Homo sapiens: one gene and its partners. The protein of the gene in region 1 purifies or fractionates together with the protein of each later gene. This does not show direct contact. Each region holds a gene or a part of one and is shown in the gene's direction. Other genes may lie near its edges.

Region 1 (4,163 bases):
GGCTCACGCCTGTAATCCCAGCACTTTGGGAGGCCAAGGCGGGCAGATCACGAGGTCAGGAGATCGAGACCATCCTTGAAACCCCGACTCTACTAAAAATATAGAAAATTAGCTGGGCGTGGTGGCGGGCGCGTGTAGTCCCAGCTACTCGGGAGGCTGAGGCAGGAGAATGGTGTGAACCCGGGAGGTGGAGTTTGCCGTGAGCCGAGATCGCGCCACTGCACTCCAGCCTGGGCCACAGAGCGAGACTGCGTCTCAAAAAAAAAAAAAGAAGAAAAGAAAAGAAAGAAATACCGGGCGCGGTGGCTCACGCCTGGAATCCCAGCACTTTGGGAGGCCGAGGCGGGTGGATCACGAGGTCAGGAGATCGAGACCATCCTGGCTAATACGGCGAAACCCCACCTCTACTAAAAATACAAAAAAATTAGCCGGGCGCAGTGGTGGGCACCTGTAGTCCCAGCTACTGGGGAGGCCGAGGCAGGAGAATCGCTTGAACCTGGGAGGTGGAGGTTGTAGTGAGCCAAGATCACGCCATTGCACTCCAGCCTGGTTGACAGAACGAGACTCCATCTCAAAAAAAAAAAGAAAGAAATAGATGGCCCTTGCTCAGCGGCAGCAGTCACCGTGACTGGAAGAAGCATTTCATTCCGTCCAGACAGTTACTGAGCTTCCGTTCTCCAGGCACTGCACAAGGTGCCGAGGACAAGGCAGGGGAACGGCCTGGGCAGCCTTTGGATTGGAGGAGTGGCCCCAAAGCCCACGTATCAGTTAGGCGGCGCCTGCGTCTCCCCCAGAGCCCACGTATCAGTTAGGCAGCACCTGTGTCTCCCCCAGAGCCCACATATCAGTTAGATGGGCCTGCGTCTCCCCCAGCGCCCGCGTATCAATCAGGCAGTGCCTGCGTCTCCCCCAGATCCTGTGTATCAGTTAGACGGTGCCTGCATCTCCCCCGTGCCCACGTATCAGTTAGACGGCGCCTGCTTCTCCCCCAGAGCCCACGTATCAGTTAGACGGCGCCTGCTTCTCCCCCAGAGCCCACGTATCAGTTAGACGGCGCCTGCTTCTCCCCCAGAGCCCACGTATCAGTTAGACGGCGCCTGCTTCTCCCCCAGAGCCCACGTATCAGTTAGACGGCGCCTGCTTCTCCCCCAGAGCCCACGTATCAGTTAGACTGCGCCTGCTTCTCCCCCAGATCCTGTGTATCAGTTAGACGGCGCCTGCTTCTCCCCCAGAGCCCGCGTATCAGTTAGACGGTGCCTGCATCTCCCCCAGATCCTGCGTATCCATTAGACAGTGCCTGTGTCTCCCCTAGTGCCCGCTCACATTTCGGTTTTGCTCCTCTTCCTCTGCTCAGCTTCTGTGTTGGCACTTGGAAGTGATTCACATAGTCCCCCGTGGCCACCTGGGGCCACTGAGAGCCCTGCCCTGCCCCTGCCTGACAGTCAAGTGAGTCAGGGCAAGCACAAGGCCAGGAGGAGAGCCAGGGCCACTGCCGTTGGCGGGGCCTGGCCTTGCACTTTATCCCCCTCTGCAGGGTCCCGGCCCAGCTGGGACCAGCTGGCTCAATCCCTGCCCCCTATGCTTACTTGACTCTGTGGGGTCGCTGGAACCAGGCAACTCCCACGGGGTCCCCATGACCACTTGCCTGATCTTAGCCACCATCTCCTCTCTCTCAGACCACTGGAACAACCTCCCACGCTGTCCCTTGCTTCTACTCTCACTCCCTGTCCCCCTGGTCAATGCTCAACTCAGCACCCAGCATGGTCCCAGTGGCATGAGTGTGTCACCTCCCAGCTCAGAGCCTGCTTCTCACTCGGGCTGCTGTGTCCCTCAGAATCAGACCTCCAGCCTGTGCCCCACCACCCGCCCTGTTTTTCTGCGGGGCTCGTGCACCGTCCCGCCATCATGCACTCGTCTCTGGCCACGTGCCATGGAAGGGGCTGCCCCAGAGCCTTCAGACTTCGCTTCCCTCTGCCCGGGGAGTCCCACCCCCGATGGCCACGGGACTCGCTCCCTCACTTCCTTCGGCTTTTTACGCCAGGGTCCCCTCCTAGAGAGAAGCGAGCCTTCCCTGACCCTGTAGCTTCAGCCTCCCCTGCTTCACACCTCATCGCCATTCCCTTGTTTTATTTTTTCCTTTCCACTTACTGACATACATAATTTACTGATTTTTCTTCTTTACTTATCGCCTGTCTCCCCCAACTAGAATATAAGCTGTATGATGGCTGGGCGCAGTGGCTCACGCCTGTAATCCCAGCACTTTGGGAGGCCAAGGCGGGAGGATCACTTGAGGTCAGGAGTTTGAGACCAGCCTGGCCAACATGCTGAAGCCCCGTCTCTTCTAAAAATACAAAAAATTAGCCGGGTGTGGTGGTGGACGCCTGTAATCCCAGCTATTCAGGAGACTGAGGCGGAAGGATCATTTGAAGCGGGGAGGCAGAGGTTGCAGTGAGCCGAGATTGTGCCACTGCACTCCAGCCCTGGGCAACAAGAGCAAAACTCCGTCTGAAAAAAAAAAAAGGCTATATGAGGGCAGGAATTCTGGCCTCAGTGTGGCCCCAGGGCCTAGAGTAGTGGCCAGCACCCAGTAGGCAGCCAGTGGTGACCAGTGTTGACGGGATGGATGGACACAAGCGAGGGAGTGAAGGGACTGGCAAGTGTGCCGCTGCCTCTCTGCATGCGTGTGAGTCGGCGTGTCTGTGGGCACGGCATGGAACCGTCCTTGTCACGGAGGAGGGACAAAGGCAGAGAGCCAGGCTGCGGCAGCTGTTCCCCTCCTGGCAGCCCCACTGACTGGGCCACCGGCTGCGGCTCAGCCGCTTCCCGGGCCGCCCTGCAGTAGCATCTTGGCATCTTCTCGGCGGCCGGAAGGCGGGAAGGATGGCACAGCATCCCTCCATGGCATTGCTGCCGTAGCGAGAAGGTATCTTCTAATGGACTCCCACTTCCAGCCCTGGCCCTCCCCACTCTTTCAGCCTGGCCTTGCGGACCCTTCATGGGCTGGTCCCGGCCCCCTCCTCATGTACCAGTGGCATCCGGCTCCTCACCATTCCAGGAATATGCCCCCAGCTGCCAGCGCCCCGTGTTCTTGCCTCTGCCATTTCATGCTGTGCTGATTGAGATGGGACCCGCACTGCGGCCCCCTTGGCAGCTGCTCTCGGGGAATCGGAGCAGAGGCTGCGTGTCTGGGAGCCTGGGACCTGTGCTCCTCACGCTGCCTTGTCCTCCTCAGATCCTGGTGAAGTCCATGCTGAGGAAGCGTTCCTTTGGGAACCCGTTTGAGCCCCAAGCACGGAGGGAAGAGCGATCCATGTCTGCTCCAGGAAACCTACTGGTGTAAGTACTGGTGGGCCAGGGACTGCCGGGCACTCCCTGGAGTTGGGTGGGGAGGTCTGAGGCCCATCCTCCCACTCTCACTGTCGTTGGGCCAAGGCCAGAGCCTGGGGACTTGGCCAGGTCTCGGTGTTGGCCCCATTTGCATCTCTGTCCCCAAGGTTAGTCGGGGCTAGAAGGGACCTTTTGGGCCCAGCTCTTGCTTCATTCCTGGGGCCAGCATCCCTCACACACACACTTCCAGGGATGAGGAGCTCACGCAGCCCCTCCATGGGACAGGAAGACCCTTCTTCCATGCAGCTTGATGTCACTCTCTCACTGGGTCCAGCCCCTCTGGGGCTTCAAATCTGTGGCCCCCTCAGCCCTTGGCAGCCTGGCAGAGGTTTGCAGACAGGCTGATGTTGGCTTCCTGTAGGAGGCTGGCGGGCTGTAGAGGAGGGGTGCTGGCCCCTCTGCCTGGCCCTGGGGACTGTTGGCTGCTCTCCCAAGTGGCCCAGGCTGCCTGCAGCCATTGCTGGGGCTCTGTGCCCAGTCAGCACTTTGTGAGTGCTTGTTCAGTGAGTAAGCAGGGACAGGCTGGCCGGTGGACCACGGGAGAGGAACCCGCATTGGCCGAGGGCTCCCTATGGTGAGCCACGCCTGTGGGTTCACCACCTCCTAGGAGGGTCCAGAAAAGCAGCTCCCCAAGCCTGTGCGCCTCGTCCTCAGCAGATCCACCTTCTTCACTATAATAAAAGCCAGTCTGGGATGCTAATAAGGCCTGTGCTGGAGTTTGTACACAAACCTGCAGAGAGAAAACCAGTGGGGTCCTGAACCACAGCGTGGTCCTG
Region 2 (4,163 bases), on another chromosome or scaffold:
TTAAATCATTTATGAAGCGCCTCCCCAGCAACCACTTCCTGACCATCGGAAGCATCCATCAGCACTGGGGCAATGACTGGGACCTGCAGAACCGCTACAAGCTCCTGCAGAGTGCCACGGAGGCACAGAGACAAAAGATCCAACGCACTGCCCGCAAGCTTTTCGGCCTCAGTGTACGCTGTCGCCACAATCCCAACCACCAGCTGCCTAGAGAGAGGTAAGTGTTGCCACCACCTCCACCTCTGCAGGCACCTACCTGGCGTTAGCTACATTATCTTGCTGCAGAGTGAAATGCAATGCAGATGGTGCATTTGTGGGGTGGCAAACAGGACCTCGCATGGTCCAGACCAACAATTTTCTGGATTGCCTCTGGGTCCTCACCTACTGGCTCCACATTGTTTCAGATTCCACATTGTTTCCTGAATGTACCATGAATTTTCAGCCTCTGTGTTCTGTCTGATTCACCTGATTGAGGAGGGGAACACTAGCCCTGATAGTTATGTGGCATTATCCTGGCTGTTAAAAATATATTTCATATTTAATTTTAAAATTACTGAGCAAAGCCAATTTTAGCATCCCCATCTTAATGGTGAAAAAACTGGATTAACTAATTAATCATTCGCCACCTTATTTATGAGGTCCTTTGAGCAGAGCCAGGAGTGAGTGACACAAATAACAAAATGTAATACAAAATGTCAGGAGACACTTGCGGGGTCATTGAGTGCAGGGTCCTCACCTGAGAGAGTGTCACCTTCAGTGCCTGGCTACCTTGCTTGCCTCCCCTAGTTCCAGCCATGTCCTGGATATACCGGGTATTCTGCTAGATGGTGGAGAATACAGAGATGGACAAGACAGGGCCCATGCCTCCATAGAATTAGGGTTTACTACTCTCTCAGGGGCACAGAAGGAAGGAGCCAGGACTTGAATCCAGGTTTTTTGGACTCTATTCTTCCGGGGCATTTCTGATCTGCAGCTGGTAGTTCCTACTGTAGAGGTGCCTCCAGGGTTTCTAAAAGGGCATCACAAGACAGCAAAAGGGCAGGTTGGGGCTCTCTCTCCACCCTGCTTCAGACAGAGCAGCTCTGCTCTTATTTGTTGCATATTTGGGGGTTCTACCTTCAATTTAGTTCTAAGAAAAAGATCCACTCTTAAAAAGAACAAGTCCATTCACATTCACCTAGCATACCCTGTGTCAGTCACATATTTATATATATGATTGTTACCCTGTTGTACAAATCTGGAAATGGAAGCTGAGAGAGGTCAAGTAATTTGTCCAAAGCTACAGTGTAAATCAGTGGTTCTCACTTGGGGGTGACGTTTTCCCCAGGGGACATTTGAAAATATCTCAAGACAATTTTGAGTATCGTAGCAAGGGTTAGGGGTATTATTGCACAGGCAGTTCTCACAACAAAGAAATATGTGACTTCAAAAGTTGCTGGTGCTCAGGCTTAGCAATTCTGATGTAAGAGAGACAAGATGCCAGCTATTTTAGGTTGATGCAAAAGTCATCGTGGTTTTTGCCATTATTTTTTAAGTTTTGCCATTACTTTTAAGTAACAGCAAAAACCACGATGACTTTTGAACCAACTTTAATAAATCTATAAATCAAAATCTTATCTTCCTAACTAGTCTGTTCTACTGGCACTCAACATTTAACAACGGCAGTCTTCTACCACAGTCCATCCACCTAATTACCCCGATGAGGTGCACCCTTTTTTCTCTCGTTTTTCTTGCGTCAGAGCTAATGCTGCTATTCCCTCCATGAAGTCTTTCCTGATTGTACTAGCCAATACAGAAAGCTTCTTATTCTAGATTCCCACTAATCTAAAATCCTTTCCTTAGCATATTTCTCTCTCTTTCCCCCCTTATGAAACCTCCTCCTTGTACAGACATTCAAACTCATCTCTGTTTTCCCTATTCCCTCCAAATTTGAGCCCACTGCTTTGCATCTAGCTTGTGATAATTATATTGTTTTGTGGATCAAATAGAATTTCTTTTGCCAGTTTCTTGTTGCAATGCTGCTGAAGCAGGGACTAGAAAAGGTCACAAACTTACTTTCTTGTCGAGCACAACAGATGCTCAGACTGCTACCACGAGCAAGTCTCTGAAGAAGCTTCCTTTTAGATCCATCACACATCTGCCATGAGACCTGCATCGAGCACTGTGGGAAATTCAGAAATGCACACAGCGAACAGTGCTGTGGAAGATGTCTTGTAGAGCAGGAGTGGGGAGGGGTTCTTTTATCAATCAGACCCCATATGTATTAGTTTATGATGGTTGCCATAACTAAGTACCATGGACTCAGTTGCTTAAACAATAGAAATTTATTTTCTCATAGTTCTGGAGGCCAGAAGTCCAAGATCAAGGTGTCAGCAGGCTTGGTTTCTTCTGAGGCCCCTTTTTCTGGCTTGTGGATGGTTGTTTTTTTCTACCTGTGTTTCCACGTAGTCTTTCCTCTGTGTGCATCTGCGTCCTAATATCCTCTCTCTCTCTCTTTTTTTTTTTTTTTTTTTTTTGAGATGGAGTCTCGCTTTGTTGCCCAGGCTAGAGTGCAGTGTCGCTATCTTGGTTCACTGCAACCTCCGTCTCCCAGGTTCAAGCGATTCTCCTGCTCAGCCTCCCCTTGCGAGTAGCTGGGATTACAGGTGTGCACCACCACACCCAGCTAATTTTTGTATTTTTAGTAGAGACGGAGTTTTGCCGTATGGGCCAGGCTGGTCTCAAACTCTTGGCGTCAGGTGATCCACCCACCTCAGCCTCCCAAAGTGCTAGGATTATAGATATGAGCCACCATGCCCTGTGCTAATATCCTCTCTTAAGAGGATACCAGTTATATTGGATTAGAGCTGACCTAAATGGCCTCATGTTAACTTAATTACCACTTTAAAGACCCTGTCTCCAAACACAGTCACAGTTTGAGATCCTGGGGGCTAGGACTTTAACATATAAGTTTGGAGGGGTATGTAATTCAGCCCAGAATATTATAGGAGGTAGCTTTTGATCAGATCTTTAGGTGAAAAAGCTGTGCATCCCAAGGAGCAACGAAGCTCGATGCAAATCTGATTGAGGAGGGCCATGTTTGACCATGATAAGAATTCAAACAAATAACCTCTTTCAGTTACGGTGATTGTCATCTCAGAAAATGGAGAGTAAGATCCAAAGGTCCCAAAGACATTAGGCAGGCATATTTATTAAAGTTGAGTGAAATCTCCAGAACACCAAGCATCATCAGATATGCTAAGTTCAAGGGAAGACTCGAGAGGATTTTAGAAGGAGGGTAGCTGGATAGGTATTACAAGGGAAGAAGGAGGGACAAAGCTGGGTAATAGGAGTAACACTGGGAAAAGTCAAGGAGTCTGGATTTGTCCTACCACTAGTAAGCTGTGTGTCCTTGGGCAAGTCACTTCACCATGCTCAGTGCAGGTGTCTGCATCTTTGAATAAGTCTCTGCTCTCCTTCTGCAAGTCGTCAGGTGTAAATAGCTAAAAATGCTCTACCATCATGGGACCTTCAAAGAAAGAGCTCACAGTGTTGCCGTCTCTCCTACTAAGGAGGAGAAAACCTGCCCTAATCATCATATTCTTCTCACCTGGAGAGGATGTCTGGCGTTCCACCATTAGCAGGTCACTCAATTATATTAATTTGAGGAATTTTGAGTGCTAGGTACCGAGGGGTAGGAGCACACAGACACTAGGCTCTGTGGCTAATTCCTCTGAAGCCTTCCCAGGAGAGATGAACTTCCTTGGACGGGCTGTGGGCCGCTTCCTGACATCTGAATCTGAGGCTTTAATGAGTATTTCTCACACCGCAGGGCACCTCTCTGGCATGGAGCAGTGTCGGACAGAGGTGCTAACACTGGGAACCTTGGGCCACCTCTAGCTGAGCAAGCTGGTATTTGCAAATGAACTGATTGCATGGTTTCAATGTGTCTGCTTGCTGAAGTCTGTGGAAGATGAGTGTGCTGAGCAGGTGCCATTACTGCAGCAGGTGCCACAGAGATGTTTACTTGTCTCACAAACAGGTGGCTTTGTTAAGGTAAGGTGGGAGAGGGAAAGAGGGAACAAGCACAGGGCCTTAGCCACACATGGACTGGTCCGAATCCTGGCTCCATCACTTACCAGACACAGAGCTTTATGTAAGTCCTGCACCTCATTTGTGAAAGG
Region 3 (4,163 bases), 9.1 Mb from region 1:
CTTCCTGTAATCCATCTGCCACACAGCAGCCAGAGAGGTCACTTCAAGACAGAAAAGTAGTGTGTCACTTGCCACCCTAAAGCCCTTCATGGGCTCCCCATTGCAATACAATCAAAACACCTTGATATGGCCTACAAGTCCTGTAGGCCCCGGCCGCTACCCACACTTCCATCTGTACCCATCGCTGAACTGCAGCTGCATGGGCTGACTCTTATGTCCCTCTAACTCCCTGGCCACTTCAGGACTTTCGCCCTTCCGCGGGTTCCCTCTGCCTCTTCTAATTGCTGCCTATATTGTTACTGAACCTTCAGGGCTCAGCTAGAGGGTCATTTACTCCAGAACTGCCTCTTCTTCTCTAGACAAGTTGGATCCCAGCCTTCTGTATTTTTCATTTTCCTTGCAGAGCACTTAGCATAATGCCACTAAGCTGTTTCTGTTATCGTGTTTCCTTTTGTCTCCTCCACTGGCCTGATTAGAGCAAGGCCTCCATCTCTTTTTCCTGCTATATCCTTGGCATCTGATATAATGGATACTCAGTAAATATTTGTAATAAATGATGTTCAAAATATTTACTAAGCTTTGTTTTATGTTGATACCTATTGGTAACCTTTTAAATACTTGAATAGTTGCTGTGTTCTACATTTGTTCAACCATAACTGCTCATTTCTTTGTTTTTCATTAGGAAAAATACCTCGAAGCAATCAAAATATTTTCTGGTCCATTGAAAGGAATAGAACTGGGTACGTCTTTGTCTGTGACTCATCCTCTGCTATTTCTAACTTATATATGCCCTGACCTCTCAAATTAGAATCCATTAAAAACATCAACATCAAACCTCAAAATCAAATGCTTCATCACCACGAGATTTTTTTTTTTTTTTTTTTTTTTGGATAGAGTCTTGCTTTCTTACCAGGCTGGAGTGCAGTGGCATGATCTCGGCTCACTGCAACCTCCACCTCCTGGGTTCAAGCCATTCTCCCACCTCAGCCTCCTGAGTAGCTAGGACTACAGGCGCATGCCATCACGCTCAGCTAATTTTTTGTATTTTTAGTAGAGACGGGGTTTCACCATGTTGGCCAGGATAGTCTCGATCTCTTGACCTTGTGATCTGCCCGCCTCAGCCTCCCAAAATGAGCTACCATGTGGCTGGAGATGGGATTTCTAAATAGTGACATTTTCTGTGTTCCCACCTCATGCTGTAAAAATAGGGGCCAGGTCGGCAGGAGTGATTGAACAGCTGATGCCTGCCTGTGTACATGCTGTGTGGCATTCTCCATCCAGACGGCAGGGCTCCTGCCTCAGTTCCAGAGGTGCTTCTCGTCGTTGAGTTGCTTTGAGTTGGGGGCGGGGGTGACAAGGGTTCCCTAGAGGTTTTGTGGCCAACTTTGTACATTGAAACGCAGCTCCAGCTGCGCAGGGGGGCTTACAGCCTCTTGATGGGAAGAGGCCTCACTGAGGATGCTAGTAGGGCTCTTGTCCTGGCACTGGTGTGTATCTGTGGCTTGTTAATACTCCTCTTTTATAGAAACACTAATACTTTGTTTCAAAATATACATCAGCTCTTCTGGTTTGCGATGATAGGTTCCCTGGCTTCACTATTCTGTTTGTTAACTTGGGTCTCTGAAAGTTGAGTACTAGTTTCTTGTTTTTCAATTTTTAACGGATAGTCACCAAAGATTATAATGTCTTTTCATCTGGCTGTAGTAAATATAAATGGCTGACCAAAATACACTTTTATTTATTTCCTAAAAATGGTAATCTCCTTAGAAAGTCTGGTTTTCGTGTCAGATTCCCACCATAATTCTGAGGCAATTCAGTTGCTCGTGGTTGGTGATCCTGAAGTTACTCTTCCCACACATCTTCACTAATGCAATCACTTTGCTGTTGTGTGGTTTTCTTGTAGCTGTGCGGCCCCACTCTGCCCCAGAATACGAGGATGAAACCATGACAGTTTACCAGATCCCCATACACAGTGAGTATGAAAGCCAGGTTTCCCAGGAGGAGGGTGTACGTCCTGAGTAAAGAAAACATGGATGAAAATAGAAACTGAACACTTGCTGTGGGCACCCTGTTTTGTGTTCTGAGCATGATTAGAAAATTTAGTTGAGGAATGAAGATATGGCTCCTGCCCTGGCTTATAAACTTACGGATGTCTGACTTATGCCTAATGATAGTGATTATGCTTTGGAATATTAGATAATCAAGCACTGTTGGTAAATAGATTGCATTCAAGTTTGCACATTCATTGCTTGGAGGTTTTTTCCCACAGGCGTAATACCCTCTTTTGATCAGACGATCATGAAGAGGTTTGCACAGATAGATTTTTTTAAATAAATAATGATTACAGCAACCTAAAAGAAGTGTTGTTGGGGGTTAGAAGCTCCTGCAAATTCCGAAGTATCAGGGCCAGATGATGTGGTCTTAGCTTAGGAAAAGAGTTAGTCTTGTCCTTGAACTTGGCTAAAGACATTCATGTCTGGTTTTACTTACATGTGAAGAGAGTACCAAGCAGTAGGGGTATTTCCTTGTTAGTACTAACTAATGTGATGCTTACTAAGTAGTGCTGATGGGTGACAGACCAGAGCACCCAGCAAAGGCCAGAGAAGTCCAGAACCTGGCGAGGAGATGAGGCTTACACTGACTGAAGGCAGAAGGCAGCAGGGAGGAGAGGAATGTGCCGGAGCAATGGCACAAGTGCTCCTAGGCCAGTGCTGTGATGAGCTGATCAGCACTCCCATTGCCTGGCTTGCTCCTCCTGCTCAGATGCCTTCTCTCACCTGACCCCTGCTGTAGCCACCCCCAGCCTGAGTTGCATCCACCTGTTTGTTGTCCATTTCCAGCACCCTGTTCTTCGCTCCATGGCATGTGACAGTTAACTTTCATATGTGATTTGCGTGATCGATGTTAACATGCTCAGTTTTGCCGATCACTGTTTTTTCAGTGTCCAGCGGCCCTCAGTGAGTGAACTTACGTTCATTCTCGTTGCAGCTGTGCTTTAGCTTCTTAGAGCAGCGAATTTTTTTCCCTTGATCTTGAGCCTTAACTAAATGTAAAATGAGGCTCCTTCTTGAGATAGGTACCCTTTGGGTCTATGTGTTTTAGCGGGAGTGATGATAATAAATAAGCATGTCTACAACCCACATGCTGTTTAGATAACACGTTGTTGAGTTGGTACTGTGGCCGAGGCTGTGAGCTAAGCAGAAACATAAACATTAATAGGACATAGGTGCAGCCCAGAAACCAGGTAGGAAGTTAACTAACTAGTTATTTCCTACTGTATAGTAAAAGGTGTGCTGATTTAATTGGCGTTCTGGCATTCCCATGTATGAACGTCTGGGCCTTGGCTGTCAGCTCACCTTGTGCAGTGTGTAATTTGGTGGTATCTGTACTGACCAGGTGAACAGAGGAGGGGAAAGCACCAACCATGGCAGAGTCCAGAAAGGCCTCTCAGCAGGCTCAGTCCAGAGCGATCTTCAGACTCCGAGTCGAATGAAAATGAGCCACACCTTCCACATGGTAATAGTATAAACAAAACAGAGCAGCAGAAAGGCTTGCGTTTTCTTAATTCTCTGCCTTGTAATGCTTGTAGAGAGTCATTATTGTAAGAAAGCCAGGTGTGTAAACAGATCCTTCTTCCTGGGCTTACTATAACTTGGCCCGTTGGGGGAATGAGAAGGGTTGTTGTAAAGGTGGCAGCCTGCAACTTTAATAATGACCAGTCCACAGTTTTGGCCACCCAGGGTCTGGGTAGGCCCAAAACTGTGTTCTGTTTTCCCAGAGGAGAACAGGGCCTGACAAACGGATTCATTTTGTATTTTTCATTAATGTAACATTTATGCAAATTTTCCATTAATGTGGAAACTATAACTGCTAAGCCAATGAGACAGTCAAATCAGTGAGAGGCTCTGCACGTCTTCCAGAATGACAGCCCACTGGGAAACGGAGTTAAAAGTCCAAGATGAGATGTAGCTCAGGAGTCAGGCCGCTTCGGGAGTTTGTTGTCCTTAACAGAAGGTCAGCGTTGGCAAAGCTCGGCAGCTCCTCTTTCTGTCCTGAGGTCTTGTCTAGTGACTGAGAACAGGCTGACCCCTATGTGCTGTCCTTGTTTGGATGGCACCGGGTAAAGACTGACACCAGCATTTTCTCTGCAGGCCTTTGAACTT
Region 4 (4,163 bases), on another chromosome or scaffold:
CAACCTACAGGAATTCTTAAACTTTTGCTTCTTGGCCTCCTTTTCTCAGGAATTGCCTGATGCAGCCATTGCCAGAGACTGCCTGTCACTGTTCAGCACGTATTATCCTAAGAGCATTGATAGCTAGAAATTCTTAATCTTAGAAACTAAACTTTAAGAACTAAATTTAATAATGGGAACTCTAGCAGAGTGTTTATAACCATATTTTAAAGTTTTAAATTCTTAAATAGAATGTGTTTTAAGGCTTTAATACCTTTAAGAAAATTCTCTTTACTTCCAATATATTTCTTCATTCATGATTGTAACTTACAAAACCCACATTACTTTGATTTTGTTTTCTACCTTAAATTGATTTTCCAGTTTGACTGTGAAACATCTAGGTTTGCAAGAGTTCATTATTTTAAACCTTGTGATGGTTGGGCTGGTGAGCAGGTTATGGTATGTACATACCTCTGACATCCTTCATTTCTTTCTCATCTCCTTTCAGCCTAGGTTTCTTATTAGTAGTTTTCAAACTTATTTTCTTATGGGGTTATGGAAGGTGCAGGTATTCTCTTTCTTGGTTTGATCAGAGTTTTTTGAGGGTAGATTGGGAAGCCGAGTGCTGATGGCTGTATCAAAGGAGTAGGCTTTGTATCTCAATCCACAAGATCAGCCCAATCACTGAACAACTAAAAAAATCGGGAGTGACTGGTGTCACACTGAAATCTGGGTCATGGTAGGTTGTAGTGAAACATCAGTGGGCTTTTACTGAACATTAAAAAAATTAATGCCTGTGACTGGGAATTGCAGTAATAAAAAATTGTTGGTAGTAGTCATATTGCAACAGGCCGTTTAAAATGATGCTAATCCTGGGCTGGCTGTATCACTTGATTCTTTCTGTCACTCGGTTTCTAATTTTTAATGGCAATGATAAATGCAATTTTTGACCTTCTTATGTGCTAGACTATTTTCTTCCATCTCAAACACCACTGCTTTTTTGAGCATATTTAGTTGATGTATGCTGGTAATACTTGGAAACTAAAGAGACATCTCTTTCATGTCTCTCAGTACATATTGTGAAACTGATCTGATGGATAATTAGAATTTGCCCGTATCTGTAAGAAGGCCTGTTTTGGGCCATTTCAAACAATTAAGATTATTAGTTCTAATATGAATGTAAGAAAACATTGGATGGAGAAAAGAAAAAAAGTTTCTGTGTTTAGAGATTGAAAACCTTGCTTTGATATCTTAACCTGGATATCTCAAATAGTATTTCCTATTGTTTTATTTTTTATTCTACTTATTCTTAATCAGAGGTAACAATGTTTGATTACTAATCATATTATTTTAAAATGCTAAACCTTTGATACTCTCTTCTGTAATGAAAATAGCTTTAATTTTTGCTGATTATAATACATGCCTGTTTTAAGAAATTTAAAAAGAGAAATGTGAAGAACCTGAAATTTGCCTAAAATCTCACCATCTACCACACTTAAAACTTTGATATGCATCCTTTTGTACATTTCTCCATGTAGTACTTTTTGAATATATATATATCTTTCCTGGTAGACTGTCTTACAGTTTTTTGAGTAACATTTTATACTTGGATTTTTCTGTTGGGTTGGACTAATCTGGCTGTTCGCAAGTGTGCACTATAGTGTTTTTTATCTGTACTGGAGGACCTTGATAGCCATTTATTTTCAGCTTTCAATCTTGCAGTTTATTATGTAATCTGCAAATTGTAATTACTGGCTAATTAATGAGCTCCTATTTCTTTCTCTAGGGTTCTCTATAAAGGTGTCTTAAAAAGGTTGATTTTGTTATATGAGCCTTTGTTTGGATTGCTTCAAGAGGTCGCTAGGATTCAACCAATGCCTTACTTCAAAGATTTTACCTTTCCTTCTGATATCACTGAATTTTTAGGACAGCCATATTTTGAAGCCTTTAAGAAAAAAATGCCTATAGCTTTTGCAGCTAAAGGAATAAATAAATTGCTAAATAAACTGTTTTTAATAAATGAGCAGTCACCAAGAGCCAGTGAAGAAACCTTGCTTGGAATTTCAAAAAAAGCTAAACAAATGAAGATCAATGTACAGAATAATGTGGATCTTGGACAGCCAGTAAAGAATAAGAGAGTCTTCAAAGGTAATTTGCTTTGATACAGCACATACTCTAGTAAAACAAAAAACAAATAAAAAGAAACCTTTTGAAAGTAATAGTCATGCATTGCATAGAAAGAAATTCAACATCTCACATCTTAATTTTGACTCATATTGATTAGAGAGGTATGGTAATACCTGTGCTTTCTAAGCTTGAGTACTTTAAGTTGTTTATTTGTTTCTGTAGTTGCTTCCTAGTTATTTGCTTGCTTTATTCCTTTATTTTGTGGTAATTTGGCAAGAAATGTCATGCACTTAAGAATTTGTTGTAGATTTGAAAATAGTATGCCTAAGGTTTTGTATCTGCAATTTTTCCACCTCCACAGAAGAGTCATCAGAATTTGATGTGAGGGCTTTCTGCAACCAGCTGAAACACAAAGCTACTCAGGTTTGTCTGGCTTCATTAAATTTAGCTTATGATTTCTGCTAATTTGTAGAGGATGCTTCTTACCAAGGGCAGAGATTGAATCTTTTCATTTTATCCCCAGCTCTAAGCTTAGTGCCTTCTTAGTTGTCAGTGTGTGCTTCTGAATGAATAGAGGCAAGGGATTTTTAATACATCTAGTTAATTCAGTTAATAGAGTACCTTCAGAAATATTTTAGTAGGAGTTTCTCTAGAATTTTAAAGTAACCGTAAGATCTGTTGTTAAGTATGGATTGTACTGCAGCTTAAGAGTATAGGCTTTGCAGTCAGACAGTTGGTTTGAATCCTGGCTTTGGTACTAGCTGTGTGACCTTCTGTGAGTTTCCTGATCTCTCCGTACCTCTATTTTGTAATAGTAATATGTGCCTCATAGGGTTGTGCTAGTTTTAATGCATGTAAAGCGTTCGGTAGTCTGGAGTATGGTAAGCATTTAATTGGAGTTAGATGTTATTAGCTACGGTCATTTTGGTCATCATCCTCATCATTTTGTCATGAAGCTATTCCTTTACTCCTGTTGAGGTTCAAGTTTTAACATGATTGATTAATGTCTGTAAATTCTGTTTGTTCTGGACCTAACAGCATATAAGTACATCGGCATTACTGTTTTACTCAGTAACTTGACTTTTTTTTTTTTTTAACCCTGTCTTTGCAAAATGTCTACTTCTGGTATTTTTCATGGGTTAGTTTACTTCTTTTATTTAAGAATTCTTAAACATATTTTCTTGAACTTAAGGACTCCAGCTTCCATTGATGTTCTGTCCAATTTATGAATTCAGAGTGAGGAGTAATACTTTCTGTGCCAGGCATTGTTCTAAGTGCTTTTATATGCATGAAGTCATGTAATTATATCACAAAAGCTCTGTGAGGTGGGCATGCTTATTACTGTTTTCATATTTCAGATGAGGAAACTGAGGCATAGAAAGGCCAAGAAACTGCCAGGCCACATAGTGAATAAATGGTAGAGCTGCGATTTGAATGCAGGCAGTATGGTTTCATAGTCTTTCTTCTTTACTATTCACCAGTCCCCAGAACAGTTTTTCAACTGTATCTCAAGAACTATGGTGCTTTGTGAACCTTGAAACTTCTGCAGCCTGTGCACCTGTTTGTAGGTGAGCTGGCTTTGAAGTTGGTGGGTCAGCATCCCTCTTACTCAAAACTAACTGCTACTATATTTTTAGCAAATAGCACTAACTTGCTTAGCTTTAAAGCAAACTACTTCTATTGATCACCAAACATAAACTATTGACCTGGGTCATTACTTTTATATTTTCTACTTTTTTTTAAAGTTCCTTTTGAGTGTAAGAAATTTGGAAGAAGGTAAGCTTTGAATGAAAGAGCAGATCATCTCGTAGGCAGCATATTTTCATAAAGAAATAGTAAACGTTAGTAAAATCCAAATGTGACTTGATATAGAAAGAAGGGGTTGAAGAAGTAAAGGTGCCTTGTCAGAAGATGGTTGAAGTAGAATTGGAAGTGTTGCTCAATTGAGCATTTTTAATAGATATTCAGCAGGCATTAACTGATTAATGGGCTTATTCTGCTGGGCACTCTGCAGGGCCCCATATCTTCCCTGTTTTCAGAAACATTTCTAAATTGAG
Region 5 (4,163 bases), on another chromosome or scaffold:
GGCCCATGTCAGATCTTACAGATATGCTTGAGCAGGGGTCATAAATTCAGATGCTCAGAGGTACTACGTAGAAGTGAGGAAAGGCAATTGTGTGGGGGACTAGAGAGGTCTTGCTTTGTCTATTGAAAGCTGGCAGGTGCTTAGCACCAGCCCTGTGTAGCCATGGAGGGAGGCACACTCAGCGTTGCTAGATACTCCAGCCCTTCAAGTAAAGCCAGAAACTTGGGTTCTATGTGAAATTGCCCAAAGGTTCAAAATTTAGGAGTTAGTTTTAAAAAATGTTAACTGCTGTATGAGCCAGTAAAACATGGATGTAAGCAAAATCCATCCCATGAATCACTGGTTCTTTTTCTTTTTTTTAATGCCCTTGAGTCATAATATCACTGCATCTTAACCTTTGTGTTAGAATGTTTAAAATAATTAACGGCTTGGCTAGACCCAGAGATAAATTGCAGTGGATTTGTAGTTCTTAGACTTGGAGTACGTTTTATAAATGTGCTACTAAGTTCCACCTTGTTGATAGCTATACTACTCTGAGGACTAAGAGCTGAGCCATAAGTAAGAATTGTGCGTTTCAGTTTTTGTTTGTTTGTTTGTTTGTGTTTTTGAGATGGAGTCTCGCTGTGCGCCCAGGCTGGAGTGCAGTGGTGTGATCTCAGCTCACTGCAACTTATGCCTCCTGGGTTCAAGTGATTCTCCTGCCTCAGCCTCCCGAGTAGCTAGGATTTCAGGTGCCCGCCACTGTGCCTGGCTGATTTTTTGTATTTTTAGTAGAGACGGAATTTCACCATGTTGGCCAGGCTTGTCTCAAACTCCTGACCTCAAATGATCTGCCCTCCTTGGCCTCCCAAAGTGCTGGGATTATAGGCATGAGCCATTGCGCCTGGCCACATTTCAGTTTTTTGTTTTTGTTTTTGTTTTTGTTTTTGAGATGGAGTCTCGCTCTGTCACCAGGCTAGAGTGCAGTGGTGTGATCTCGACTCACTGCAACCTCCGTCTCCTGGGGTTCAAGCGATTCTCCTGCCTCAGCCTCCTGAGTAGCTGGGATTACAGGTACGTGCCACCACGCCCAGCTAGGTTTTGTATTTTTAGTAGAGATGGGGTTTCACAATGTTGGCCAGGATGGCCTCAATCTCCTGACCTCGTGATCCGCCCACCTCGGCCTCCCAAAGCGCTGGGATTACAGGCATGAGCCACTTAGCCCAGCCCACATTTTGGTTTTATACTCATAACTGTGGGGCTGCTATCTAACCCTGGGAGAATAGGAAGAGGGGTCTATACAAGTTTATGATAATATGTATCCTTATGCAAAGTGATTATATAGCTCTCGTGAATTTATCATAGGAGAGATGAGAATTATGGATATGTTCCCAAGTCCCTATGTATTAAACAGGACTGTAGTAACTATTTCAGTCAGTGTAGGCTAATTGCTAAAACAGACAACTCCCAAATCTCAGTGACTTAACACGATGAAAAAACAAATGTATTTCTTTCTTCAGTTTCCTGGACGTCAGTGGAGGATAGGGGGTGGGTGGGACGAGGCTTTGTTTCATGCAGTGTTTTGGGTTTCCAGGCTCCTTCCTTATTCTGATCCTACCATCCTTTAGCACTTTGGAGTCCTCCACTGGATCCTCTGCTTATGGGTGGCAGATGAAGGAAGAGAGAGAGCATGGAGGATTTGCCAGAGGTTTTTAGGGGACAGGTTTAGAAAGTGGTGTATCTCACTTTTGTCTATGTTCATTTACTGATATTCATTCATGTGGTTCGACCTAACTGCAAGGGGGTCTGGGAAGTGTAGTCTGTATAGCTTTGTGGCCTGGGGAGAAAGAGTTCAGTGAACATGCAACAATCTCTGCCACTCTGCATATTGCTGCTCTGAACCATGAAGTCCAAAATGTCACATCCGGTGTGTGATGTGATATACAGGTTACCTTTTTTATTTTTAAATATTATGTAACAGATCCAGATGTGTTGCAAGAAAGCCTCAAATTCCTCTGTTTAGGATATAGAGGAGGATCTTTCTCATATTTGTAGATGCTGGGAAAATGAAGGAACTGATGAGTTTTTTTTTTTTCTTAAAACCTTGAGGTTTGTAAAGAATCCTGTTCTGACTCCCAAATAGAGAAGCAGACCCCTCTTGCCTGACTCAAGTAGAATTAAATTTAACTGAATTCTGACAAACAAGTGTCCTTACAAACTGGTATACTGATAAACTAGTATAAGATACCAGGATTTCTAATGGGACTTTTAAAAAGTAAAAGAATGAGGTAGACCTTAATAATAACCTCTGTTTGTTCCTTATTTTTAGATGGGTCATATTTCTCTATGATCGTATTTGTTTAAAAATTATTCTGATTTTTCAGCCTGCAGGTCAGGAGTCATCTTTTCCCCCTTCTGGTCAGTATCCTTATCCTAGTGGCTTTCCTCCAATGGGAGGAGGTGCCTACCCACAAGTGCCAAGTAGTGGCTACCCAGGAGCTGGAGGCTACCCTGCGCCTGGAGGTTATCCAGCCCCTGGAGGCTATCCTGGTGCCCCACAGCCAGGGGGAGCTCCATCCTATCCCGGAGGTGAGTTACGGGTTGCGGAATTAGTAATGATTGGGATTGCTGTAGCACTTTTTCCTTCTCCCTTTATCCTCTTCATTCCTGCTTGTTTTGTATAAGGTCAAGTCGCTCTTAGGTAACCTTAGGTAGTAAGGACCTAGCTGGCAAGATGGAGGGATGAAGATTCTCTGGGGACATGAAAGCTGGGAGCAGTTTCAAAAATTCCACTGTGAAGGGACTTGGAATAAATTTCATGGCAATAAAGGACCAATATGTAACACTTTGCTTGTTTGTAGTCTTAAGACCTGATTAAGACATTTCAATTAGCAAGACTGTGACCTTTAGGTCAGCTTTATTCAAAGGTAAAAAAGACCCCAAAAAACAACAAAAAAACCTTAGCCCTTTTGTATTTTAAGTTAGTAGGGAAGAGTAATAAAGTAATATTTTGGCTGGGTGTGGTGTCTCACACCTGTAATCCCGACACTTTGGGAGGTTGAGGTGGGTGGATCACTTGAAGCAAGGAGTTCGAGACCAGCTTGGCCAACATGGTGAAACCCTGTCTCTACTAAAAATATGAAAATTAGCTGGGTGTGGTGGTGCATGCCTGTAATCCCACCTACCTGGGAGGCTGAGGCAGGAAAATCACTTGAACGTGGTAGGTAGAGTTTGCAGTGAGCCAAGATTGTGCCACTAAACTCCAGCCTAGGCAACAGAGTGAGACTGTCTCAAAAAATAAATAAATATATAAGGTAAAAATTTAAAAACTTATTTTTTACTGGAGAATTTGAAGTTTTGAATCTAGATAAACAGGGACTGCTATTATAGCATTAATAGCATATTTTTCCACTGTTAACAATAGATATTTTTCTAAAGTTTTTTCTGCAATCATGAGAACTGTACTATAGTTTATTGACATGTTCTTTTCTCTAGTTCCTCCAGGCCAAGGATTTGGAGTCCCACCAGGTGGAGCAGGCTTTTCTGGGTATCCACAGCCACCTTCACAGTCTTATGGAGGTGGTCCAGCACAGGTTCCACTACCTGGTAGGTACCAGCTGTCCAGAAAAAAACAGTATCATGATATTTTGAGTTTTTAAATCACCATTGAGGGAACTTAGTTTATATTTGAGATAATCTGCAATAAATGTTTATATTTCCATAAATAATTTTAAACATAATGGTTTTATGAAATATATTAAATTGATGGAAAAGTTTAATCAGTAAAATAGAGATAAAGTCACACTTTTTCTATTAAAAAAATCTGTCCCAAAGCCAAAAGGAAGCCTTCAGGAACTTCTCTGCCCACTCCTGTACCAATAGTAAAACCACCCCCAGAACTGTATTCTGACAACCATTCCAGGTGGACTCAGAATTTAATCTGATTCAAGTGTGAAAAAAGTATTATTTATGAGGATCTTATGTAGAACATGGAATATTAAAAAGGTTCTTATGACCAAAGTTGGTTTTAGATTCAGTAAATTATATTTTTAAAAACTATCCTCATAAGTATCATAGTGTGAATGTTCTTGTATGTTTCCATATTCATAGTCATCAATGCTGTTTTGAAAAATTAAAACATGTAAGACCTGTTGCCGTATTATTATTATTTTTTTTAACATTAT
Region 6 (4,163 bases), on another chromosome or scaffold:
CAGGATGGCCGTGCTTGTGTGCGTGCTGCAGGTTTAAGCTGTAGGTTGGGAACAGGTCCCTCTAGTTGTGTAAAGAGCTGTGAGGGTACCCCCATGATGCTGTGCCCGTGTTACCGTGTTGCTCACAATAGATGAGAATTAGAGGCTCCCAAGGCTAGTGTCAGTCACTTGACTCACGCCTTGTGTGTTCAAAAGCCCAGGGTCCATCAGAGTGCTGTTTACTGCGGGAAGTTGGGGCGTCCACAGGTTTTGATAGTTTGTTGTGTTTTTTCCTGAAGGAAGCAGAGGAATGGAGCGGACGGTCGTGATGGATAAATCGAAAGGAGAGCCCGTCATTAGCGTGAAAACCACAAGCAGGTCCAAAGAGAGAGTGAGTATTGCCTCTGCCATCTCAGGGCCAGCTGTTTCTCACGATGGCTCCACGGCCCGTTTGATCCGCATTATGAAAACAGCACTGTTTTGCCTTTAAAATTGAAGTTTGTAGGAGGCGCGATAATTGTGTAGATTGCGGATACAGACACACACATGAATCCTGGTGCTTTCTGCAGAGCAGTGCCCATCCGTGTTTGCTTCCCTTACTGGCTCCTGACCGGGATGTGCCGCCTTCAGACAGAGCATTGGTTCACACGGCAGCTCACCATAGGGTGGGATGGGCCAGACCCAGGCTTTTCGAGCCGGAAGGCAGGTCCTACTCTTTGGTTGACTTAATAGCAGGCTACTTTCTTCCATTGGTTTTTTAGTCTCCTATTAAATTAACCAAAAAGGTAGAGACCAACCTAGGACAGAGAGCTGGTCATGTTATCAGATCAAGAGCTGTACCTCTCGAGTTGTGCACACAACTAGACGAAATAGCGTCTCATTTGCGTTTTTCACTCTGGGAAACAATAAAAACCTCTGCTTCCCAGCTGCAGGTTCTAGCTAAGATATTCATGAGGTGACAGTACTTTTTTAACGAATGTGGAGTTCACCATATTCAGCCAGGACCACTTTGTGTTGTTAAGACTTAACTTTTTTTTTTTTTTTTTTTTGAGATGGAGTCTTGCTGTGTCACTCAGGCTGGAGTGCAGTGGCGTGATCTCTGCTCACTGCAACCACTGCCTCCTGGGTTCAAGCGACTCCTGCCTCAGCCTCTCGAGTAGCTGGGATTACAGGCAACAGGCACACATCACCACACCAGGCTAATTTTTTTACTTTTAGTAGAGACGGGATTTTGCCACGTTGGCCAGGCTGGTCTCGAACTCCTGACCTCAAGTGATCCACCCGCCTCAGCCTCCCAAAGTGCTGGGATTACAGGCTTGAGCCACCGTGCCCAACCAAGACTTAGTTTTTAAAATGAACATTTGGATTTTATAAAGTATCAGTTCCTAATGTCATTTTTCACATGAAAATCATAAGATACAGAGAAATGTAGAGTAGAACATTGAAAAAGACCCATACTCTTACCCCCATGTAACTGTGATGTTGAAAACAAGTAGTGATGACACATGCATGATTAGAACATCTGGTCAGCTTGAGGAGATGCAGCACGGGCATACTAAAGCCTCCGTGTGTCCAGTTGGGCTCCTCGGCTTCCTCTGCACACACGTCCCCTGTGCCTGCCATGGGACCACAGACAGAGGATGTGCTGGAGCTTGCACTTTCTGTGTAATATGCCTTGGAGGTCTCTACATACAGACACATACGGTTTGGCTTTTTTCCTTTTTGCTTTTTTTTCTTTTCGCTTTTACATATATTTTTTATTTTATGCATGATATTTACCTATTAAAAAAAATAAAGGGTGGGAGTGTCTCACTTTGTTGCTTAGCCTGGCTTCAAGTGATTCTCTCGCCTTGATCTTCCAAACTTGCTGGATTAGAGGTGTGCGCCACCACTCCCAGCCTCTTTTAACGTTTAAATTTTGAAATAAAGTGCTGTTCAGAAAGGTTGTGGAGGGGACTTAAATCTCCTGGGTGTGTTGCACCTGCCAGGTCGCTAGTAAGTGGCTAAGCTGGCCTGAGAACCCAGGAGTCCCGTGCTGACACTGTTGCCTGCTGTGCTGCCCACTGTGCGGTGGTATGTGGGCATCTGTCACCTTATTCTACTGCAGTGTGTGTAAGACATCTGCCCGTCTCGTAGGCAAAGCTTGCCATCAAAGTGCTGGGTGATGTGTGTCTCTCCTGTGTCTGTGTGCCCCTTTCTCCCCAGCCTGCATTTTATTAATAATTGGTGTAATGTCTCATCTTGACCTTTGCCTGTCTTTCTGTTGGGTTGGTTTGTTTTTCATTGCTCGCTCTTTCTCTCCTATGGGGGCTAATTAGGGAAATAAACTGAGTAGCTTTTTAAAAATGTCATTTCCCAGGCCCCTGCCCCAGAGATTCTGTGTGGATCAGCAGGAGGCCTCAGGTTCTGTGTTGTTTAAAAGCTTCCTGGGAGGGTCTGATGTGTAGCCAGTTTGGGTGAGGGGCCCTGGAGAACCTTGGAAATGGGAGTCAGTTGTTACAGCTCTGAGCTTTATGCCACAGATAGAAAATGATGAATGTAGGCTGGGTGCGGTGGCTCACACCTGTAATCCCGGCACTTTGGGAGGATGAAGCAGCAGATCACTTGAGCTCAGGAGTTTGAGACCAGCCTGGACAATAGGGCGAAACCCTGTCTCTACAAAAATAGAAAAATTAGTCAGGCATGGTGGTGTGCACCTGTGGTCTCAGCTACTGAGGAGGCTGAGGTGGGAGGATCACTTGATCCTGCAGTGAGCTGTGACTGAGCCACTGTACTCCAGGCTGGACAACAGAACAAGACTGGGTCTCAAACCCAAAAAACCTACAAAAAATAAATTACGGAAGTTGGCTATTAGTGTTCTGTACCTTATTAGGAGCACTGTTTTGCATTAAAGCATTTTGGCATATTCTCTTTATTTATTTGAGACGGAGTCCCGCTCTGTCACCCAGGCTGGAGTACAGTGGCGCAATCTCAGCTCACTGCCACCTCTGCTTCCCAGGTTCAAGCGATTCTTCTGCTTCAGCCTCTTAAGTAGCTGGGATTACAGGCATGCGCCACCACGCCTAGCTAATTTTTGTATTTTTAGTTGAGACGGGGTTTCACCATGTTGGTCAGGCTGGTCTCGAACTCCTGATGTTGTGATCCGCCCACCTTGGCCTCCTGAAATGCTGGGATTACAGGTGTGAGCCACTGCGCCCGGCCTGGCATATTCTATTTAGAGCTGTCTGCCTGAGTCCTGAGCCAGCAGTTGAGATGTGAAACATGTAGTCTGCCCTCCAGCTGTCCAAACAGCTGGCCTGACTGCTGTCCCCTCTGAACTAATGGCCACAGTGGCCCTGTGCGGATGTGCCCGTGGCTCTGAGAGGCCTAGGTTTGCTTTGGATTATGTGAGTCCTTGGCTGTGCTATGCTAGAAGAACTGTGCCTGTAGGTTTTCTGAGGCGTGGGCCAACCTCTTCTCTTCCATGAATGCCCCTTGACATCTGAAAGCAGGATTCTGGATTAGGCAGTAAAATGCAAACTTGGAGGGAAGCAGCCTATGCCTGGGCCTCTGGTCTGGAGACCACAGCCTTCCATCTACACCATGTGGGGCCAGAGAATCTTAGTCTCATGCACACGTGCATAATCTCCATTGTTTGTTTGTTGCAATCATTTTCCTGACATTAATAAACCAGTTTTGGTAAACAGAGCTCCAAGAGTCAGGATCGCAAGTCAGAAAGCAAAGAAAAGAGAGACATCTTGTCGTTTGATAAAATCAAAGAACAAAGGGAGAGAGAGCGCCAGAGGCAGCGGGAACGGGAGATCCGCGAAACGGAGAGGCGGCGGTGAGTGGAGCTGGGTGAGGCTGTGGGCTGGTGGTTTCCTCTCGGGGTGGCTGTCCTTCTCCCAGCTGTACTTGGAGTGCGCAGTCTGTGTGCCCGAGAGCCAGTGCCTGGGCTGGCGGGTGTCGTGCTTAACCTGGGTCCTCGAGGCAGGGGCCAGCACCTGTTCACACGTGAGCCGCCAGACATGCCAGGTGGCATGAAAGTCATCAAAGGGCCAGGTGCAGTGGCTCACACCTGTAATCCGAGCACTTTGGGATGCCAGGGCCAGAGGATCCCCTGAAGCCAGGAGTTCAAGACCATCCTAGGCAATGTAGCGAGACCCCACCTCTACAAAATATTTAAAAATTAGCTGGGCATGGTG
Region 7 (4,163 bases), on another chromosome or scaffold:
TGACCCCTTTTGATGCTGATTATAGGGGTGCTTTCTCTTTATCTTGAGGACAATCCAGTCAAGACAAAGAGGTGGATCCCTCTGGGAGAGTCTGTCTGGTTTTCATTTATGCCAAGCCCAGTGCTCCCAGAATATCCCCACCTGCATCCAGCCCCACACCCCTGGGGCTTCTATCATAAGCTGTCTGCTTCTCCACTCTTCCTCATCCATTTTCACTTCCCAGTCACTCCGCCTTGTCGTTTGAAGACATTGGCATATCTTCCTTCACCGCCTTCTCCTCTCCCTCATGTCCTGTTTTCATCCTAGATCACCTTACCATCACTCATTCAACACACTTCTCATTCTGTGGCCACTATGTGCCCAAGGTGTGTGCCAGGCACTAAGGATACAATCATGAATAAAACCAAACATGGTCCTTTCCCTCATGGAACTTTCAGTCTAGTGAGGGAGGCAGACTCATATTAAAAAGTAAAACCATAGCTGTGATGGATGCTAAGAAGGGCTATGGGGTTGATAATAATTGGTGCATTTTGCCTTGTCAGGGAGGTCAGGGAAGCCTTCCCTAAGATAGTGATGCTTGTCAGAGATATGAAGGATGAGTAAGAATTAGCATGGCAAGAAGGGAAGAAAGCATGTTCCTGGGAGAGGTAACAGCTTGTGCAAAGGCCATGGGGTTGGAGGGGAAAATGTCAAGTGTGGAAAGTAGGTAGAGACTAGATTGGGACGGGCCTTATAGGCCACGTTAAAGTTTTGTCTTTGTGTTGAGAGCCATTGAAGCAGGAGAGTGACATGATAAGACTGTGATCTGACAAGCTCCTCTGACCCCATTGTGCAGAATGGTTTGGGTAAGGACACTTATGGATTCGAGGAAACCATCTAGGAGGCTGGACCATAGTCTCATTGAGAAACTGGGATGGTGGTATCTAAGATGGAGATGACATCAACTATTTGAGAGATGTTCAAAGTTGGATCAATAAATTGTGACAATGGATTGGACAGGAGGGTTTGGGGAGAGGGATATGTCTCGGATGACTCAGGTCTCAAGCTTGCAGCTGGGCAGAATGGTACCATTTGCTGAAAGAAGCAGCTTCAGAAGGGGACTTAGGCTTAGAAAGGGGGGTCATGAGTTTGAATTTAGACCAATTGTGTTTGAAAAGCTGCCTTAGTCTATTTGGGCTGCTATAACAAAATACCATAAGCTGGGTGGCTTATAAACAACAGGCATTTATTTCTCACAGTTCTGGAGGCTAGGAAGTCTTCAATATCAGGGCACCAGTAGATTTGCTGTCTGGTGAGAGTCTACTTCATCATAGACAGCACCCTCTATGTCCTTACATGGCTGAAGGGGCAAAGGAGCTCTCTTGGGTCTCTTTTATGAGGACACTAATTTCATTCATGAGGGCTCCACCTTCATGACCTAATCACCTCCCAGAGGGGGCCCCACCTCCTAACCCATCACATGGGGGCTAGAATTTTAACAGATGAGTTTTGGGTGGACACAAACATTCAGACCATAGCAGAGGCCTTGGAGAATGGCTGGGAAAGACAGTATTGGAGGAGGGTTGTTGGATCTATAGGCTGGGAATTCAGGGCAGGGATCTGGGCCAGGAATGTATGTAGAAGATCATTGTTGTATAGATGATTGTTGAAAACATGGGCTGGATGAGGTCTCTCAAGGAGAGAGGATGCAGAGGGAAGAAAAGAGGACGTAAGGCTGATGTTTGAGGGACAAAAACATGATGAAGACTGAAGAGGAGAGACCAAACAAGTAGGAAGAAAACCAGCATTTATGCTGCCAAGAGGACAAATAAGATAAAGACAGAAGCACTTCGGTGGTTTTAGAAGCAAGGAGGCCCTTGGGAATCAGTAAGCCTTGTTCCAGTGGAGTGAAGCATCTCCCAGCCAGATTGCATTCTATAGAGAAGACCAGGGTAAGGAATACGAACAGGAATACTTGAATATAAACGTTCTTTTTGAGAAATTTAATTCTGAAGAAGAGGAGAAAATTATGTTAATAGCTGGAGGAGGAGAAGGCAAAAGATGTACATGGTGTGTGTTTAATAAAATGCCCTTTTATTTATTTATGTGTTGCTTGTTTAAAATTTATTGAAATGTATTTTCATTATTCTGTTTGAAATATTTTCTTTTTTTTTTTTTTTTTTGAGATGGACTCTGTCACCTAGGCTGGAGTACAGTGGTGTGATCTCTGCTCACTGCAACCTCTGCCTCCCGGGCTCAAGCAATTCTCCTGCCTCAGCCTCCAGAGTAGCGGGGACTACAGGCACACACCACCACTCCTGGCTAATTTTTTTTATTATTTTTATTTTATTTTTTATTTTTTGTTTTTTTTTTATTTTTATTGGAGACGGGGTTTCATCATGTTGGCCAGGCTGATCTCGGACTCCTGACCTCAAATGAAGTCTCGAAAAGTGCTAGGATAGACATCTGAATTCATTCCAACTTATAGTTATTATAGTTATTATAATACTGCTGTAAACACTTGCATGTAAGTTTTTATGTGAACTTGGCCTCGAAAAGTGCTAGGATTACAAGTGTGAGCCACCACAGCCATCCTGTTAGAAATATTTTCTACTTTCCCATATGATTTCTTCTTTGAACCATAGATTATTAAAAAGTATGTTTTACTGGGTGTGGTGGCTCATGCCTGTAAATCCCAGCACTTTGGGAGGCCGAGACGGGTGGATCACCTGAGGCCAGGAGTTCAAGACCAGCCTGGGCAACATGGCAGAACCCCATTTCTACTAAAAATACAAAAATTAGCCAGGCGTGGTGGTGAGTAACTGTAATCTCAGCTACTTGGGAGACTGAGGTGGGAGAATCTCTCGAACCTGGAAGGCAGAGGCTGCAGTGAGCCAAGAGCATGCCACTGCACTCCAGCCTGGGTGACAAAGCAAGACTGTGTCTCAAAAACAAAACAAAAACAAACAAACAAAAAAAGTATGCTGTTTAATTTCCACATATTTTGGGTTTGTAAAAATATCTTGTAATTATTAATTTGTAACTTAATTCCTCTATAAAACTTCTAAAATTTCTCTCTAGGGAGAGAAATCTCCATGATCTTGGGTTAGGCAAAGACTTCTTAGATTTGACACCTAAGGCATTATCCTTAAAGAACAAAAATTGATAAATTGGACTTTATCAGAATTAAAAATATTTGTTCTTCAAAAAGCATTATTAGGAAAATGAGAATCCAAGCCACAAACTGGGAGAAAAATAATTTTCAAATCATATATCTAACAAAGGACTTATATCTAGAATATGTAAAGAATTCTTACAATTCAATAATAGACAAACAGCCCAGTCACAAAAGGAGCAAAGAACTTGAATAGACATTTTACCAAAGAAGGCATAAGATGGCTAAGTACATTTGCATTTGTATACCTTCTTTGGTAAAATGTCTATTATAAACTAAAATTAGTGGCTGATTAATGTTCAACATTATTAATCATTTGGGAAATGCAAGTCAAAACCAAAATGAAATACTACTTCACACTCACCAAGATGGCTAAATAGTAAGAAGGACAATAGGCAATGTTGGAAAGGACATGGGGGAAAGGGAATCTTCCCACATTGCTGGTAGAAAGATAAGAAGGTACATTTGGGAGCATAGTTTGGCAATTTCTTCAAGGGCTAAACATAGATTACCATAGAACCCAGCAATTCCGCTCCTAGGTATATACACAAGAGAAAGGAAAACATGTTCACATAAAAACTTACATGCAAGTGTTTATAGCAGTATTATAATAACTGTAAGTTGGAATTAATTCAGATGTCTATCACCTGACAAGTGGAGAAAGCATGTATATCCATACGATTCCTCAATAAAAAGGAATGGAGTACTGATAACATGCCACAATCCAGATGAATTGGAAAAATATTATGCTAAGTAAAAGAAGCCAAAACTAAAAGGCTATGTATTGTATGACTCCATTTATATGAAATGTTCAGAAAAGGCAAATCCATAGAGATAGTAGCTTACTGGTTGCCTAGGGCTGAGGGTGGGAATGGAGCGTGACTGTTAAGTGGGCATGGGGTTTCTATTGGAGCTGATGGATATGCTCTGAAACTAACTTGAATGATGGCTGCACAGTCTTCTTAAATGTATTTAGACTTGTTTTATGGCCCAGCACAGGCATATATCT

Evidence for each region.
Region 2: the proteins of CAMKK1 (region 1) and BRINP1 purify together in Homo sapiens (affinity purification with mass spectrometry; one large-scale study listed by BioGRID and IntAct). This does not show direct contact.
Region 3: the proteins of CAMKK1 (region 1) and ELAC2 purify together in Homo sapiens (affinity purification with mass spectrometry; one large-scale study listed by BioGRID and IntAct). This does not show direct contact.
Region 4: the proteins of CAMKK1 (region 1) and RMP64 purify together in Homo sapiens (affinity purification with mass spectrometry; one large-scale study listed by BioGRID and IntAct). This does not show direct contact.
Region 5: the proteins of CAMKK1 (region 1) and ANXA7 purify together in Homo sapiens (affinity purification with mass spectrometry, with the first as the bait; one large-scale study listed by BioGRID). This does not show direct contact.
Region 6: the proteins of CAMKK1 (region 1) and SAFB2 purify together in Homo sapiens (affinity purification with mass spectrometry; one large-scale study listed by BioGRID and IntAct). This does not show direct contact.
Region 7: the proteins of CAMKK1 (region 1) and GLB1 purify together in Homo sapiens (affinity purification with mass spectrometry; one large-scale study listed by BioGRID and IntAct). This does not show direct contact.

What each region holds. Positions count from the first base shown.
Region 1 is NC_000017.11:3,865,081-3,869,243, reverse strand, and holds part of CAMKK1 (calcium/calmodulin-dependent protein kinase kinase 1), read left to right. Parts: intron 1-3,232; coding exon 3,233-3,336; coding exon of another isoform or gene 3,337-3,340; exon of another isoform or gene 3,341-4,087; intron 4,088-4,163. UniProt on the Homo sapiens protein: Calcium/calmodulin-dependent protein kinase that belongs to a proposed calcium-triggered signaling cascade involved in a number of cellular processes. Phosphorylates CAMK1, CAMK1D, CAMK1G and CAMK4. Involved in regulating cell apoptosis.
Region 2 is NC_000009.12:119,204,773-119,208,935, reverse strand, and holds part of BRINP1 (BMP/retinoic acid-inducible neural-specific protein 1 precursor), read left to right. Parts: coding exon 1-217; intron 218-4,163. UniProt on the Homo sapiens protein: Plays a role in neurogenesis and brain development. May suppress cell cycle progression in postmitotic neurons by inhibiting G1/S transition.
Region 3 is NC_000017.11:13,011,016-13,015,178, reverse strand, and holds part of ELAC2 (zinc phosphodiesterase ELAC protein 2), read left to right. Parts: intron 1-682; coding exon 683-740; intron 741-1,903; coding exon 1,904-1,972; intron 1,973-3,396; coding exon 3,397-3,516; intron 3,517-4,163. UniProt on the Homo sapiens protein: Zinc phosphodiesterase, which displays mitochondrial tRNA 3'-processing endonuclease activity. Involved in tRNA maturation, by removing a 3'-trailer from precursor tRNA.
Region 4 is NC_000003.12:113,009,009-113,013,171, reverse strand, and holds part of RMP64 (nucleolus and neural progenitor protein), read left to right. Parts: intron 1-360; coding exon 361-438; intron 439-1,765; coding exon 1,766-2,127; intron 2,128-2,467; coding exon 2,468-2,529; intron 2,530-4,163. UniProt on the Homo sapiens protein: May play a role in cortex development as part of the Notch signaling pathway. Downstream of Notch may repress the expression of proneural genes and inhibit neuronal differentiation thereby maintaining neural progenitors.
Region 5 is NC_000010.11:73,396,586-73,400,748, reverse strand, and holds part of ANXA7 (annexin A7), read left to right. Parts: intron 1-2,363; coding exon 2,364-2,568; intron 2,569-3,474; coding exon 3,475-3,585; intron 3,586-4,163. UniProt on the Homo sapiens protein: Calcium/phospholipid-binding protein which promotes membrane fusion and is involved in exocytosis.
Region 6 is NC_000019.10:5,595,000-5,599,162, reverse strand, and holds part of SAFB2 (scaffold attachment factor B2), read left to right. Parts: intron 1-278; coding exon 279-370; intron 371-3,665; coding exon 3,666-3,802; intron 3,803-4,163. UniProt on the Homo sapiens protein: Binds to scaffold/matrix attachment region (S/MAR) DNA. Can function as an estrogen receptor corepressor and can also inhibit cell proliferation.
Region 7 is NC_000003.12:33,009,638-33,013,800, reverse strand, and holds part of GLB1 (beta-galactosidase isoform a preproprotein), read left to right. Parts: intron 1-4,163.